Linked DNA regions of Homo sapiens. The protein of the gene in region 3 purifies or fractionates together with the protein of the main gene of each other region. This does not show direct contact. Each region holds a gene or a part of one and is shown on either strand. Other genes may lie near its edges.

Region 1 (3,500 bases), on a different chromosome or scaffold from region 3:
TGCACTGAAATACAGTATTTGCTCAATACTGTAAAGCTTATAAAGCTCTCCCATAAATGTTTTTATCTTAATAAACAATGAAGGCCGGGCAAGGTGGCTCACACCTGTAATCCCAGCACTTTGGGAGGCTGAGGCAGGCAGATGATTTGTGGTCAGGAGTTCGAGATCAGCCTGGCCAACGTGGCAAAATCCCATCTCTACCAAAAATAAAGAATAAAAAAATTAGCCGAGCGTGGTGGTGTGCACCTGTAATCCCAGCTACTGGGGAGGCTGAGGCAGGAGAATTGCTTGAACCTCGGAGGTAGATGTTGCAATGAACCAAGATTGCGCCACTGCACTCCAGCCTGGGTGACACAGCAAGACTCTGTCTCAGAAAACAAAACAAAACAGGCTGGGCGCAATGGCTCACGCCTGTAATCCCAGCACTTTGGGAGGCCGAGGCGGGCGGATCACGAGGTCAGGAGATCAAGACCATCCTGGCTAACATGGTGAAACCCTGTCTCTACAAAAAATGCAAAAAATTAGCCGGGCGTGGTGGCAGGTGCCTGTAGTCCCAGCTACTCGGGAGGCTGAGGCAGGAGAATGGCGTGAACCTGGGAGGCGGAGCTTGCAGTGAGCAGAGATCGCGCCACTGCACTCCAGCCTGGGTGACTGAGTGAGACTCTGTCTCAAAAAAATAAATAAATAAATAAAAATAACAACACAGCATGCTTCTCAAAAATCATAAAATTTGAAAATATACTAATATCCTAATTTGGTCCTGATTAATCAATTATTCTTAATTACCTAATCAAGGAGAAGTCAGAACAAATGCACAAAAGAAAGAAAAGAGAAATAACCACACAGAGAGGGAATGAAAAGATCCATAAGCACATCTGTCAACTTCATGCACATAAACCTAAGAACTTGGCTGAAAGAGATAATTTTCTAGGAAAATATAATTTTATTTATTCTTTTTTTTTTGAGATGGAGTCTCACTCTGTTGCCCAGGCTGGAGTGCAGTGGGGTGATCTTGGCTCACTGCAACCTCCGCCTCCCAGGTTCAAGAGATTCTTCTGCCTCAGCCTCCTGAGTAGCTGGGATTACAGGCGCGCGCCACCACACCGGGCTAATTTTCGTATTTTTAGTAGAGATGCGGTTTCACCATGTTGGCCAGGCTGGTCTCAAATTCCTGACCTTGTGTTCCACCTGCCTCAGCCTCCCAAAGTGCTGGGATTACAGGCGTGAGCCACTGCACTTGGTATATTCTTTTTATTTTTTTGAGATGGAGTCTCACTCTGTCACTCAGGCTGGAGTGCAGTGGTGTGATCTTGGCTCACTACAACCTCTGCTTCCCAGGTTCCAGCGATTTTCCTGCCTCAGCCTCCCGAGTAGCTGGGATTACAGGCACGTGCTACCACGCCCAGCTAATTTTTTGTATTTCTAGTAGAGACGGGGTTTCACAATGTTAGCCAGGATGGTCTCGATCTCCTGACCTCGTGATCCCTCCATCTCGGCCTTCCAAAGTGCTGGGATTACAGGCGTGAGCCACCGCATCCAGTCTATTTTTTATTTAAATTGTCTAAATGTACTTATTTATAAAACTGACTCCAGAAGACAGGGAAAATCTTAATACTTCAATAATCATAAAATAACTGGTGAAATTTATTAAAGAGCTATCCTCTTCAAAAAAGCGTCCCAACTAGATTCATAGGATAATTGTATCAAAACATTAAAGAACAAATAATTCCAATACTATTTACATCACTCCAGAGGATTAAAAGAAAAAAAACTTTCCAACTTACTTCCACGAGGCAAGTAAGTATGTTACCAAAAAACCTAGAAAGTGATCAATAAAGAAAGTAAAGACCAGCCTTACTTACATCAGCATAATAATCCTTTTTCTTTTTTTGAGACAGGGTCTCGCTCTGTCACCCAGGCTGGAGTACAGTGGTACAATCATAGCTCACTGCAGCCTCGAACTCCTGGACTCGAGGGATCCTCCTGTCTCGGCTTCCCGAGTAGCTGGGACTACAGGCACGCACAACCATCCCTGGCTAATATTTGTATTTTTTGTAGAGATGGGATCTCCTCATGTTGCCCAGGCTGGTCTCAAACTGCTGGGAACAAGCATTCCTCCTACCTTGGCCTCCCAAAGTGCTGGGATTACAGGTATGAGCTACCACACCTGGCCTAACATCAAACTCTTTAACAAGAATACCAGCAAAAAGAATCCTGCAAACATTAAAGTGGTAATAACATAACACAACCAAGCTCCCTGCATTTCATGACTGTGAGATGGTTTCATTTCATACAATCTACTCATATAATCATTTTATTACTAGAGCTAAAGAGAAAACCATGATCGTCTGCACATATGTTGAACGGGCATATGATAAAATACAACATACATTCTTGATTTTAGAGGCTCTTAATAAAAAGTAATAGATATATAAGGAAATCCCCATCTCAACCCAAAGCCAGCATTAGGTTCAGTGGGATAACGTCAGAAGTATTCCTTCTAAAGACAGGAACAAATTGATCTTACCAGTTAGGATAGGCTAACATGCTGAAGTAACAACCCTTAAAACAACAAAGGTAGGCCAGGTATGGTGGCCTGTGCCTGTAATCCCAGCACTATGGGAGGCCAAGGAGGATCACTTGAGGCCCAGGGGTTCAAGGCCAGCCCTCGCAACATAGCGAGACCCCAGCTCTACAAAAAGAAAAAAAAAAATGAGCGGGGTATGGTGCCATATACCTGTAGTCCCAGCTACTCAGGATGCTGAGCCCAGGAGCTTGCGGCTGCAGTGAGCTATGATCAAGCCACTGCACTCCATCCTGGGCAATAGAGCAAGAGACACTGTCTCAAAACAAACCAAAAACCACAAAGGTATATTTCTCACTCAAACTATATGTCTGCAGAGGGGTAGGCTGGGGCCCTGCTCCCTGGCCTCCTCACTCCAGGACCCCAACTGATGGAGCCTCCACCATCAGGAACACCGCTCGTCTCCATGGCAGGAAGGAAAAGAACCAATTCCACACTGGTTCTTGAAGATTTCCACCCAGAAATGACACACACGACAACATTCCCATTTCACTGGCCAAGTGAGTCACCAGAGCCAACTGAATTTCAAGTGAACAGGGAGTACAATTCTATTACATGCCCAGAAGACAAACACATAGAAATGCTCATGAATAGCACACCTACGACTACCATTTACTTGGAAATTAACCCATAACCCAGTATCGGACTTAATGAAAAACCACAGAAGCAATTCCATTAAAGCCAGGCACGTGGCAATGACATCTCCAAGCACAATTCTTAACACTGTTCTGGACACATAAAGCAACACAGTCAGGCAAAGGAAGGAATGTGGAGGTAACATGATCACACTGCACAGATGCCATGATTATAGACACGAGAAACAAATCAAGAAGATCAACTGGAAACTACTATAAGTAGTAAAAGGATAAAAGAACATGGCTAAGGACAAAATCATTACAGAGCAATCAACAGCTTT
Region 2 (3,500 bases), on a different chromosome or scaffold from region 3:
AAGTTTTTTGAGATATGACTTTCCCTTTAGGCCTGAAACCAGTAACTGTTCCTACCTTCACAAGGGAATATTTCAGGACTACTTTGTGTTGGGTCAAAACTAGAATATTCTCTCTGTACCTTTGGAACCAACACACAACAATTTTTTTGTGGCACTCAATCCTTTTGTTTGCCCGGTTGATGAGCAGTACATTATTATAAATACTTCATTTTCTTTTTGTAGATAATCCCACCGTTTCTGGCATGTCAGATATGGATTATCCTTTGCAAGGACCTGGTTTGCTGTCCGTACCCAACCTTCCAGAGATCAGTTCCATCCGAAGAGTTCCTCTCCCACCTGAACTTGTTGAGCAGTTTGGACGTATCCTATTACTTTGTATTTATTTTAAAAATGTTAAAATTGGTATTTTTCATTCTTATAATTCTTGTTCTATGTTTAATTAATGTGTTATATATTCATTTAAGGGTTTTATTTAAAATTCGTTTAAGTATATGGGTTCCATGTTGTATTAAAGAGTGGACACATTGTGATTTTTTACGTAAATATTAAGTCAAAAGCTATTGAAACAAGTTAAAGAAGAATAAGATTCACCTCTGTCTGCCTTACATCCACACTACCTCAGATATGCAGTGTAATTGCATGATGGGTGTGTTCCCTCCTATCAGCAGAGCTTGGCTCACAATTGACAGTGATATATTCATGTGGAACTATGAGGATGGGTATGTATTTAAGGCTGGTTTGCTTTAAGGGTGATTGGAATTTATATAAACTTTACTGTAGCTAGTGTTCTCATTAGAAGCTGCTTGGTTTATCTTTCATTCATCTAGCCTTTGGGTCAGTGCTTCTCAGTATCAGTCATCTGGAGATGTTCAAATGTGCATTCTGTCTTAGTAGTCCTGAGTGAGGCTCAAGAGTCTGCATTTCTAACAAGCTGCCAACTGCTGCTGCTGGTTTAGGTGCCATTCTTGAGTGGCAGGAGCCCGGGTCCCAAGCTGTTAGCCCGTAGTAAAAATAGATGTTGGCAATTCATTGAGAGATGATTGGACATTTTTAAAGACTTCTGTTTTCCTTGCATTTCTATGGAGTAGGCATGTGATATTTATTTATTTTGTTGTCATTTTGTGAATTTGACCCGTGTGTAAATTATATGTATAGAAATGATTCTGAGTGAAAGCCTAAGGTACTTTTGCTTAAATACAGCATGTTGGTCTGGTGATCTCCCTGTTGACTTTTTAGAGATAGATTTTGTTTTACTTCCAGTTGTCCATTACATTATCCTTAGATGAGGTGTGGGATAAACATAGGAAAGCCCATATAATTAAGATGTTACTCTTGTTCCTGAGTAATTAATGATCTTTTTAGGAACACACGTGCATTAAAAAGACACTGTATCGGCCGAGCACGCTGACTCAAACGCCTATAATCCCAGCACTTTGGGAGGCTGAGGTGGGTGGATCACCTGAGGTCAGGAGTCCGAGACCAGCCTGGCCAACATGGAGAAACCCTGTCTCTACTAAAAATACAAAAATTAGCCAAGTGTGGTGGCACATGCCTGTAGTCCCAGCCACTCGGGAGCTGAGGCAGGAGAATTGCTTGAACCTGGGAGATGGAGGTTGCAGTGAGCTGAGATAGTGCCACTGCACTCCAGCCTGAGTGACAGAGCGAGACTCCATCTCAGAAACAACAACAACAAAACACTGTATTATTGAAACAAAATTGAAACTAAATGACAGCTTAACACCTATAGCTTAAACGAAACCATTTTTTTCTACTAGAAGTTTCGTAGCAATTTTTCATGTTGAAATGTAATAGTTGTAATAGCAGTGATGTATGATTGTGATTATTTTTCATGTACCCTGAATGTTCCCCACTTTGTTATGTTACCATAACATATTCATTTTTATACTAAATAATGAAACCTTTTTTGTTTAGGTATGTATCTTTTCAAGAGAAGTCATTGCAAAAATATTACAGAACAGATAAATGTGAGAATAATTGTTTTCTTTAAAATATGTTTTCGGCTGGGCATGGTGGCTCATGCCTGTAATCCCAGCACTTTAGGAGGCCAAGGCAGGCAGATCACCTGCAGTCGGGAGTTCGAGACCAGCCTGACCAACATGGAGAAAGCCCATCTCTACTAAAAATACAAAATTAGCCTGGCATGGTGGCACATGCCTGTAATCGCAGCTACTCGGGAGGCTGAGGCAGGAGAATCACTTGAACCTGGGAGGCGGAGGTTGTGGTGAGCCGAGATCGCGCCATTGCACTCCAGCCTGGGCAACAAGAGGGAAAACTCCATCTCAAAAAAAAAAAAACACTAATGAAATTTTTTACATTTCCATTAACATCCAACATATTTATTTAACACATACATATTGATCTTATGTATCTGACACTGTTGTTGTGGTAGGAACAGTACTGAATGAGATGAATGTAGTTCTGCCCTCATGGAACAAACAGTCCTACCTTACTGTGTGTCTTAGTCCGAGCTGCTAAAACAGAATACCATAGCCTGTGATCAACATGAATTTCTTTCTCATGGTTCTGGAAGCTGGAAGTCCAAGATCAAGGTCTGGTGAAAGCCCACTTCAATGTTCATAGATGGCTATCTTTTCACTCTGTCCTCACATGGCAGAGGGGTAGGGGAGTTCTTTGGGTCCTCTTTTATAAGGGCACTAATCCCATTCATGAGATATACCCTCATGACCTAATAACCTTTCAAAGACCCCACCTACAAATACTATCACATTAAGAGTTAGGATTTAATATGAATTTTAGGAGGACACAGATATTTGATCCATAGCAGTGTGTGTTCATTTAAAGAAAAATTATTTGAAGAATGTACTTATTTTAAAAAATCAAGGCACAAGGTCCACAAATTCAATTTTGTAAAATTTATACTTAGTTTAAATATTCAATTGGCTTTCTATTATAAATCCTAATTCCACCTGGATGATAAAAATGTAATCTTGGTCATTTCATTGTTCTCTAACCCCCAAATATCTCAGCATTGGATCGTAGTTCCAAGAGGCTGTGCCAGTTATCAAAGGGCCCTGTGGAATGGCATGATGTAAGAGGATGGGGAATCCTAGTCCGCATAAGTTGCCATTTAGCTATTTTGTTCCTGTGTGGATGGCCTTTTCAGGATGACTGGAAGCTTTCTTGAAAGTCTAGATCATATTTTTTCGTGGTATTTTTTCTGCTTCTTGTTCTCTGAGCTTCTTAGATCTTTAGTTTGATGTCTTCTATTATTTTTAGAATTTTTTTCAGCTGTTATCTTTATTTCTCTCTCTCTCTCTCCTTTTCTGTTCAGCCATTGTCTTTTTTTTTTTTTTTTTTTTGAGACAGAGTCTCGCTCTGTCGCCCAGGCTGGAGTGCAGTGGACTATCTTGGTTCACTGCAACCTCCACCTCCTGGGTTCAAGCACTTCTTGCCTCAGCCTCTGGAGTAGCTGGGACTACAGGTATGGGCCACCACACCTGGCTAATTTTTGTATTGTT
Region 3 (3,500 bases):
ACTGGGGATAATAGCTTGTAAACTACAAGTGATTATTATCCTAATATAGTTTTTTAATAATCAGGAATTTGCCTAGACCAAACATAATCTTCAAGGAAAATGTCACAATGACATGCTTAACATACCCAGGCACAAAATAGTACAAATATATAAAAACAACATAAAGATTATAATTCCCACAGCTCCTTTCCATTCATGCAAATCACTTTCTATTCCAACTGTGAACTAATACTTGTGACCCTTCCACAAAATGCCTGGGAAGTGTGCAAAACCTCCAGTTATAGGGACTTCTTTCAAAGTAATCCATTCTACTCTGCAGTTATCCCCTTTAAGTGTATTAATGGTAAAATGTAAAAGTTGCTAAAATTTTCTCTGGAAACAAATTTTAGGCAGTACTCATTGAGACAAATCTGTTTCCTTTCATCTGATTCTTCCACCTACCAAATCGAAACTCGTATGTCTTAAAATAATACTTACCCAACACCAAGAATGCGTTCACCATGCTTGGTGATGTTTTCCTGACACTCGGTCTTATTTCCCACATGGAGATGATTAACTTGACTACATAAATTCTGGAGAAAAGGCAGCAACTCGGAGTTGGGTATATTTGAGTTGTCACTTACTTTCTTTGGTAAGAAAGAGGCCATTGCATTTTTAAGATCATTTTCAAGAAAGGAATGGTTTTGAGGCATAACTTTACACTCATCAAGCTTGGTAGAATTCTCTCCACCAGGCAGTTGTGTACTTTTATCAATGTAAGTTTGTAAGTTTTCAGTCACGTTCCCAGATGTCAATCCAGTTCTAAAAGGAAAAGGTGTGGAGGACGACTTGTTTAAGGTTCCTAAGGTAGATGAGGATTGTAGTCCAATCATATGCTTGTATCCAGAATTGCCCAACACCGACTGAAGCTGCTCTCCAATGGGAATACAATTCTAAACAAGGTAAACAAGTAAATGTTAATATTAATAACACTGACAGCTAACTTTTGGAGTAATTACTATGAGTCAGGCACTGTGCATTGTTTCATCCAATCCTCAAAACATCCTTATAAAGTAGGCCACTAATACTATCCCAATATTAAGCTGAGGAGACCAAGGCTAAAGGTACCTAGCCAAGGTAACCAGCCAGTAAGTGGCAGAACTGGAACATGAACGCAGGTCACTTAACTCCACAGTCATGACTTTCAATCATTTCATTGTAGTTTTTCCCAAAAGAAATTAAATAAATACTAGCATGAATAGTCAAACTGCACTGACACTAATGTTTCCACTACAAATGTCTCTTTATGATAATAAAATGTACTACTCTCAACTGAGTCACAAGAACCGGTAAGTTTCTTAAAATTCAATTATATCATTCCCAACTGTCAAAATACGGTAAGTTACTCACTTTCATCTAGTAATATCTTTTGCAATGAATTTTTCCTGGAAACTACACAGATAGGTATGCTATTTAAAGTTAGATGCTCTATGGGTACATTTGTGACATTTTCAATGACTGAAATTAGCTACTTCTGGCTGTGTTTGCTCTAAGAATTTCCAGGATAATGAGAGTTGTTTTGCAGCCTCAATTCAACTGGTTATGCAGTATTATTTCCTGAGAAGATTCTGGCTTACCTTGAAGGGATGATTACAGTATCTCCCTTTTATGCTCTTTAATTTTTCCATTGGATAAAAGAAAATATCTCTAGCCTAAGTCTTAAGGCATATGGCTCCACTCTAAATTCAAAACATAAAAGTCTACTATAGATTCTTATCAGGGGTTATCATCCCACACTTATTGCTGTTCAACAGCTGGTGAAACAGACTGAAAAAGCAATATGTAAATTAGCTGAAGAAACTCAGTTCATATACTTATAGATATTCTAAAAAGTTATTACTAGACTAAGCCGGAACAACATTAATTTATTCAACAAATATTTACCAGGAATCTACTCTGTGCTAGTATTGTTTCAAGCACTGGAAATACAGCAGCGAACAAAATAAATTAAAATCCCTGACCTCACAGAGCCTATATGACAGGGGAGCAAGGAGACACAAACTACAAAAGAAAAGAAGGAAAAAGGGGAAAGAAAAGAAAAAGAGAAAGTAAGGGAAAGAGAAAAGAAGTGAAGAAGGAAGAAGAGAAAAAAGTCAAGAAAAGAAAAGAAAGGAAAAAATGTATCATGAAATGGAGATGGTGATAAATACTTTAGGGAAAAATAAAGTGAGAAAGGAGAATAATAAGGGCCAGGGAAGCTGGGGGAAGATTTGTAATGTCATGTCCCCATCTAACTTTTTACCAAACTGCACTTTGGAAAAGTGCTCTTTATAGAGAAATGTTAACCTACTGTAAGTTTATCTTGTTTTATAAAATGCAAGTTTTGAATAAACTTGAATATTTAAATATTCCTGGAATAAGATGAATTATGTAAAATTATATTTATAAAATGTTAACATTGGACAACTCCCCATAAGCTCAAAGAAAGTTACTCAGTCATAACAGGAAAGCCCATTTATTTCTCTATGACATTTCAAAACAAAATGTACAGTGGAAAACTACATTAAGAGTAATAATATTTACACTACAGTCAATGTCAAAAGTATGGGTGAACATTAAGTAGGCAGAACATTTAAACAGAAAAATCTAAATGTAAAGGTATTTGCTATGTAAATTTTTCCTTTCTGACATATAATATTCTGTTTATAAGAATTCACTGATTATGAAAATTAGTCATTGGTTAAGAATGTAAAATAGTATAGCAGTGATGAAAAACAGTATGGAGGCTCCTCAAAAAATTAAAAATAGAACTACCATATGATCTAACAATCCCACTTCTGGGCATATATCCAAAATAACTGAAACTGGGATCTCAAAAAGATTATCTGCACTCCCATGTTCACTGCAGCAGTACTCACAACCGCCAAGATACAGAAACAACCTAAATGTCCATTGACTGATGTATTGATAAAGAAAATGAAATGAAATATCATTGAATGAATATCATACAATGAAATACCATTCAGCCTTTGAGAAGAAGGATATTTTGTCATGTGACAATATGATCAATCTGGAAGACATGCTAAGTGAAATAAGCCAGGCACAGAAGAATAAATAATGGATGATTCCATTAACATGACATATCTAAAATAGTTAAACTCAGAAACAGAGAGTAGAATGGTGGTTGCTAGGAGATGGGGGGAAGGAGAAATGAATTGCTATTCAATAGGTATAAAGTTACAGCTTTACAAGATGAATCTGTTTTAGAGATCTTCTGTACAACAGTGTCTATAGTTAACAACACCATATTGTACATTTAAAAATTTGTTAAGAGGGTAGATCTCATGTTAAGTATTCTTACCACAATTTAAAAAAGGTCACATTTTCTGAGATGAGAGCTCTTTAGATGATCTTTTCTCTTTGGAATAAATATCAAGAAATTCAGATATGTCTACATGCCACTATAGGAAATGAAGAAATCTCAGGTGCCTGGTAGCTAATCCTTTATTTCTCTTTATGTG
Region 4 (3,500 bases), on a different chromosome or scaffold from region 3:
CCTTTAGATAATTGCTTTGTATGGGAAAATAAAAAGCCTTAATCTATGTTAATCTCTCTATAGTTAGAGGCCATGTTCAAGTGTATTGTGGAAGTTTCCTCCCCTTATAGAGGAATTAGACATCATATTAGAATGTGTTTGTGAGCTCCTAAGTTAGGTTAAATAATTAGTATTGCCCACATTACCACCTGTTACATACAACTTTATTTTCTGACAGCACAATCAGATAAGTTCACAGCCAAGCCATTGGATTCCAACTCAGGAGAAAGAAATGACCTCAATCTTGATCGCTCTTGTGGGGTTCCAGAAGAATCTGCTTCATCTGAAAAAGCCAAGGAACCAGAAACTTCAGATCAGACTAGCACTGAGAGTGCTACCAATGAAAATAACACCAATCCTGAGCCTCAGTTCCAAACAGAAGCCACTGGGCCTTCAGCTCATGAAGAAACATCCACCAGGGACTCTGCTCTTCAGGACACAGATGACAGTGATGATGACCCAGTCCTGATCCCAGGTGCAAGGTATCGAGCAGGACCTGGTGATAGGTTGGTAAATTTTTAATTAACATGAACTGTAAAAAATGTATTTCACAAGGATTTGTTTGAAGTCATTGAAGGGAATCTCTCCATTTTTGACAGTTGCTTCCTCTAAGAGTGTCTCATTCATATAAACTTAAAGAAACTTTACAGTTTACTGTAAATGATTTTACGTATTATATTCTTTGAGCACTGTGCATTAATAGGGAAATAAAAAGTCTTCATTCTCCATATCTCTAGCACTGAGGCTTGCTTCTGAATTTACAGATCAAGAGAAAAGAATGTTAAGAATGACCCACAGGTTATTTATGAAGTCAAGGTTATACTTAGCTCTCAGATTATCTTGTAGATATCCAGGCCTTTATCAGTGTTGTTTTGGTTTTAATGTTAATTTTTTCTGCTTTTCTATTGACCCTGGATTAAGGTAGTGTGTTAGTAGTTCTGTTTTTGGGAACACTGTTTTTCTTTGATTTCTACTAAACTTAGTGACTGAATTTAGAAAATGAAAAATTATACCAAATAAATACCATAGCAGCAATAAAAAATTGAATTGCCAACATGTTTTTATAGTTTTTCTATATTTTATGTGATCACAAGGATATATTTTCTTTTGTGGGAGTTAAAATAAATTTTTAAAGTATACTGCATTTCATACTCATGGAAAACTATTTCTATTATTAGTGCTATCATATCTTATTGTAAGTTCTGTCCTCTTTCAGAGAACCTAGTTTTAATCTTAAAATCCTAGTTTACAAAGGAGTGAGATTCTATTTGAAATATTTCACATTTTATATGCTCAATATATTGCTGTTTATAAGATACCCTAAAGTATCTGTCAACTGAAAAATATAATGAAAGATTAATTTACCACTCATAGTCAAGAGCATGATGATGGGTTTGAATACTGGTTTCACCACTTACCAGCAGTGTTTTTTCATTCAAATTACTTAATGACTCTTAAAGATTCAGTTTCTTATCTATAAAATAGGGTTATGATTATCTAAAATTATTGTAAGAATTTTAAAAAAATCTATCAGTCAATCATGATGTGACCTGGCTCATGTTAATAGCACTAATTAAATGATAGCTGTATTAAACAATCAAGATAGTCTATGAGGCCACTTTAATTTTTAAAAGAATTACAGTAAGAATGACTCTAGGGATAAAGACTGAAAGAAGACAGGCAAAAATCCTGAAGAGGATAGCTTGCAGCTCAGGGGAACTGCCTTTTCTTAACTATGAAAGGGTATGTTTCTTTCTTTAGTCATATTTGGGAAATGTTTACTTTGCCATGGCACTTTTTTTGTAGATATGAAGCAAGAATTTCCCATGTTTATACTTAGAGATTAATCAAACATCTTCTCTTTACCTGTACACAGTAATCTTGAGCATTCTTAGTATATATTTTAGGCAAGTAAGACTTAGTTCTATTTCTTTCCATACCCAGAGGGAGTTCCTTAGAATGTCATTACCACTTAATTTATGCAGATGAGGTTAGCAAGCTTAGCACAATTTGAAAATCAAACTGATAATTTCCAAAATCAAACTGATAATTTCCAAAACCCAGGGTTGAGAGCTAGATTCTATAATTAAGCTTGTACATTTATGGCCTTCCATTTATATAAATGAGCTAATGTCTTATTTTTCTACATTTAAGTAGTAGAACATGATACGGAGGTCATAATTGAAAATTAAATTTAAGTGCCCAGTTTCTAGTAATGTTTTTAATGGATATTAGACACTTTGAGAAAGTCATAACTATTTAGCAGCTTCTATGCAGGCTAATTATAACACTTAATACCAAGCCTGCTTTATAGCTGAGGAAACTTAGGTGCTAAGCAAAGGGTTTTGTATATTCTAGAGCTAAGGAGTTTTGTTTTTTGAAACACAGTACTATAACATTAATGAGAAAGGAGGATTTGAGGGAGGGTGGGTCCTAGAGAATACAGAAACTGTAATCTTTCTATAGATCTTTATCATCTTCATAATACTTAGATGATTTATATGTTTTAGGGATTCTTTTAGCATTTAGATCTGTCACAAAGTTGGTTCCCAATAGCCTCATTGACCCAAGGAAACCCAGATGCTGAACTAGACTAGCAGAATCTTTTAGAAGAGAGATAATCAGTGACAACAAACAGCCTGGAACTGATCCCACTTCATGCATATACTCTTGAATTCATACTTTCATGGTTAAATCCAGATTTGAAACCACTCTGGGATCACATTTAGTTCCCTGCTTTTTAAAAATTAAATATTATTTAATATTCTGTACACTCATTTGAGTATTTAGCCTATGTTGGTCCTACATGGTATTTTGTTTTGTAAGATATAGTAGTAAACTTCCTGAAGAGTAACAGAAGAACGATAAAATTCTTATCCTTCAAGAAACTTAATTATTTATGAATAAGAGAGAATACCGAAGCCATTTATAGGAACATAGAAAACATTTAATATATGAAAGTAAATACAATTATATATATATGTGTGTGTGTGTATATATATATAAAAGATGTGTATACTGAGGTAATTAGAAAGTGATTAGAGTAACAATTACATTAATTTTCCTTTGAGATTTGCATTATTTTCTAGCTCTTTACCAAAAATTTGTAAATGGTGTAAATATTTCCTCTGACTTTTATCTAAATCGGTTATTATAATTCTTAACTTTTTTGGCACCATCCTGATTTAATCTTGAACAACTGTAAAAAAGTATACTTTTAATATTTCTGCACCTTTCTAAGGGCTCTTCATCATTGACACTCCTGCCAGTTTATCTTACTTCTCAATTTAGCTGACTTTTATTCTAAAGAGAGAAAGTTTAAGAGATTTTGCTTCTTAAGAACATGAAAAGAATCACTTACCAGCTTGTAATTAGTCCTATGATTTTGGAGAGTTTCTGTTTCCCAAGAGACTAAGGGTTGTGAAGCTCTGTTGTAACAATCATACCATTTGGTTCCTAGA

What was found. Proteins that work in one complex are often made in the same cells at the same time.
Region 1: the proteins of C10orf88 (region 3) and GTSE1 purify together in Homo sapiens (affinity purification with mass spectrometry; one large-scale study listed by BioGRID and IntAct). This does not show direct contact.
Region 2: the proteins of C10orf88 (region 3) and NUP155 purify together in Homo sapiens (affinity purification with mass spectrometry; one large-scale study listed by BioGRID and IntAct). This does not show direct contact.
Region 4: the proteins of C10orf88 (region 3) and DCAF6 purify together in Homo sapiens (co-immunoprecipitation; 3 studies listed by BioGRID and IntAct, with this or other methods). This does not show direct contact.

What each region holds. Positions count from the first base shown.
Region 1 is NC_000022.11:46,303,370-46,306,869, reverse strand, and holds part of GTSE1 (G2 and S phase-expressed protein 1), read right to left. Parts: intron 1-3,500. UniProt on the Homo sapiens protein: May be involved in p53-induced cell cycle arrest in G2/M phase by interfering with microtubule rearrangements that are required to enter mitosis. Overexpression delays G2/M phase progression.
Region 2 is NC_000005.10:37,361,107-37,364,606, reverse strand, and holds part of NUP155 (nuclear pore complex protein Nup155), read left to right. Parts: intron 1-222; coding exon 223-360; intron 361-622; coding exon 623-719; intron 720-3,500.
Region 3 is NC_000010.11:122,937,228-122,940,727, forward strand, and holds part of C10orf88 (ATPase PAAT), read right to left. Parts: intron 933-3,500; coding exon 478-932; intron 1-477. UniProt on the Homo sapiens protein: ATPase that regulates mitochondrial ABC transporters ABCB7, ABCB8/MITOSUR and ABCB10. Regulates mitochondrial ferric concentration and heme biosynthesis and plays a role in the maintenance of mitochondrial homeostasis and cell survival.
Region 4 is NC_000001.11:168,044,683-168,048,182, forward strand, and holds part of DCAF6 (DDB1- and CUL4-associated factor 6), read left to right. Parts: intron 1-217; coding exon 218-545; intron 546-3,500. UniProt on the Homo sapiens protein: Ligand-dependent coactivator of nuclear receptors. Enhance transcriptional activity of the nuclear receptors NR3C1 and AR. May function as a substrate receptor for CUL4-DDB1 E3 ubiquitin-protein ligase complex.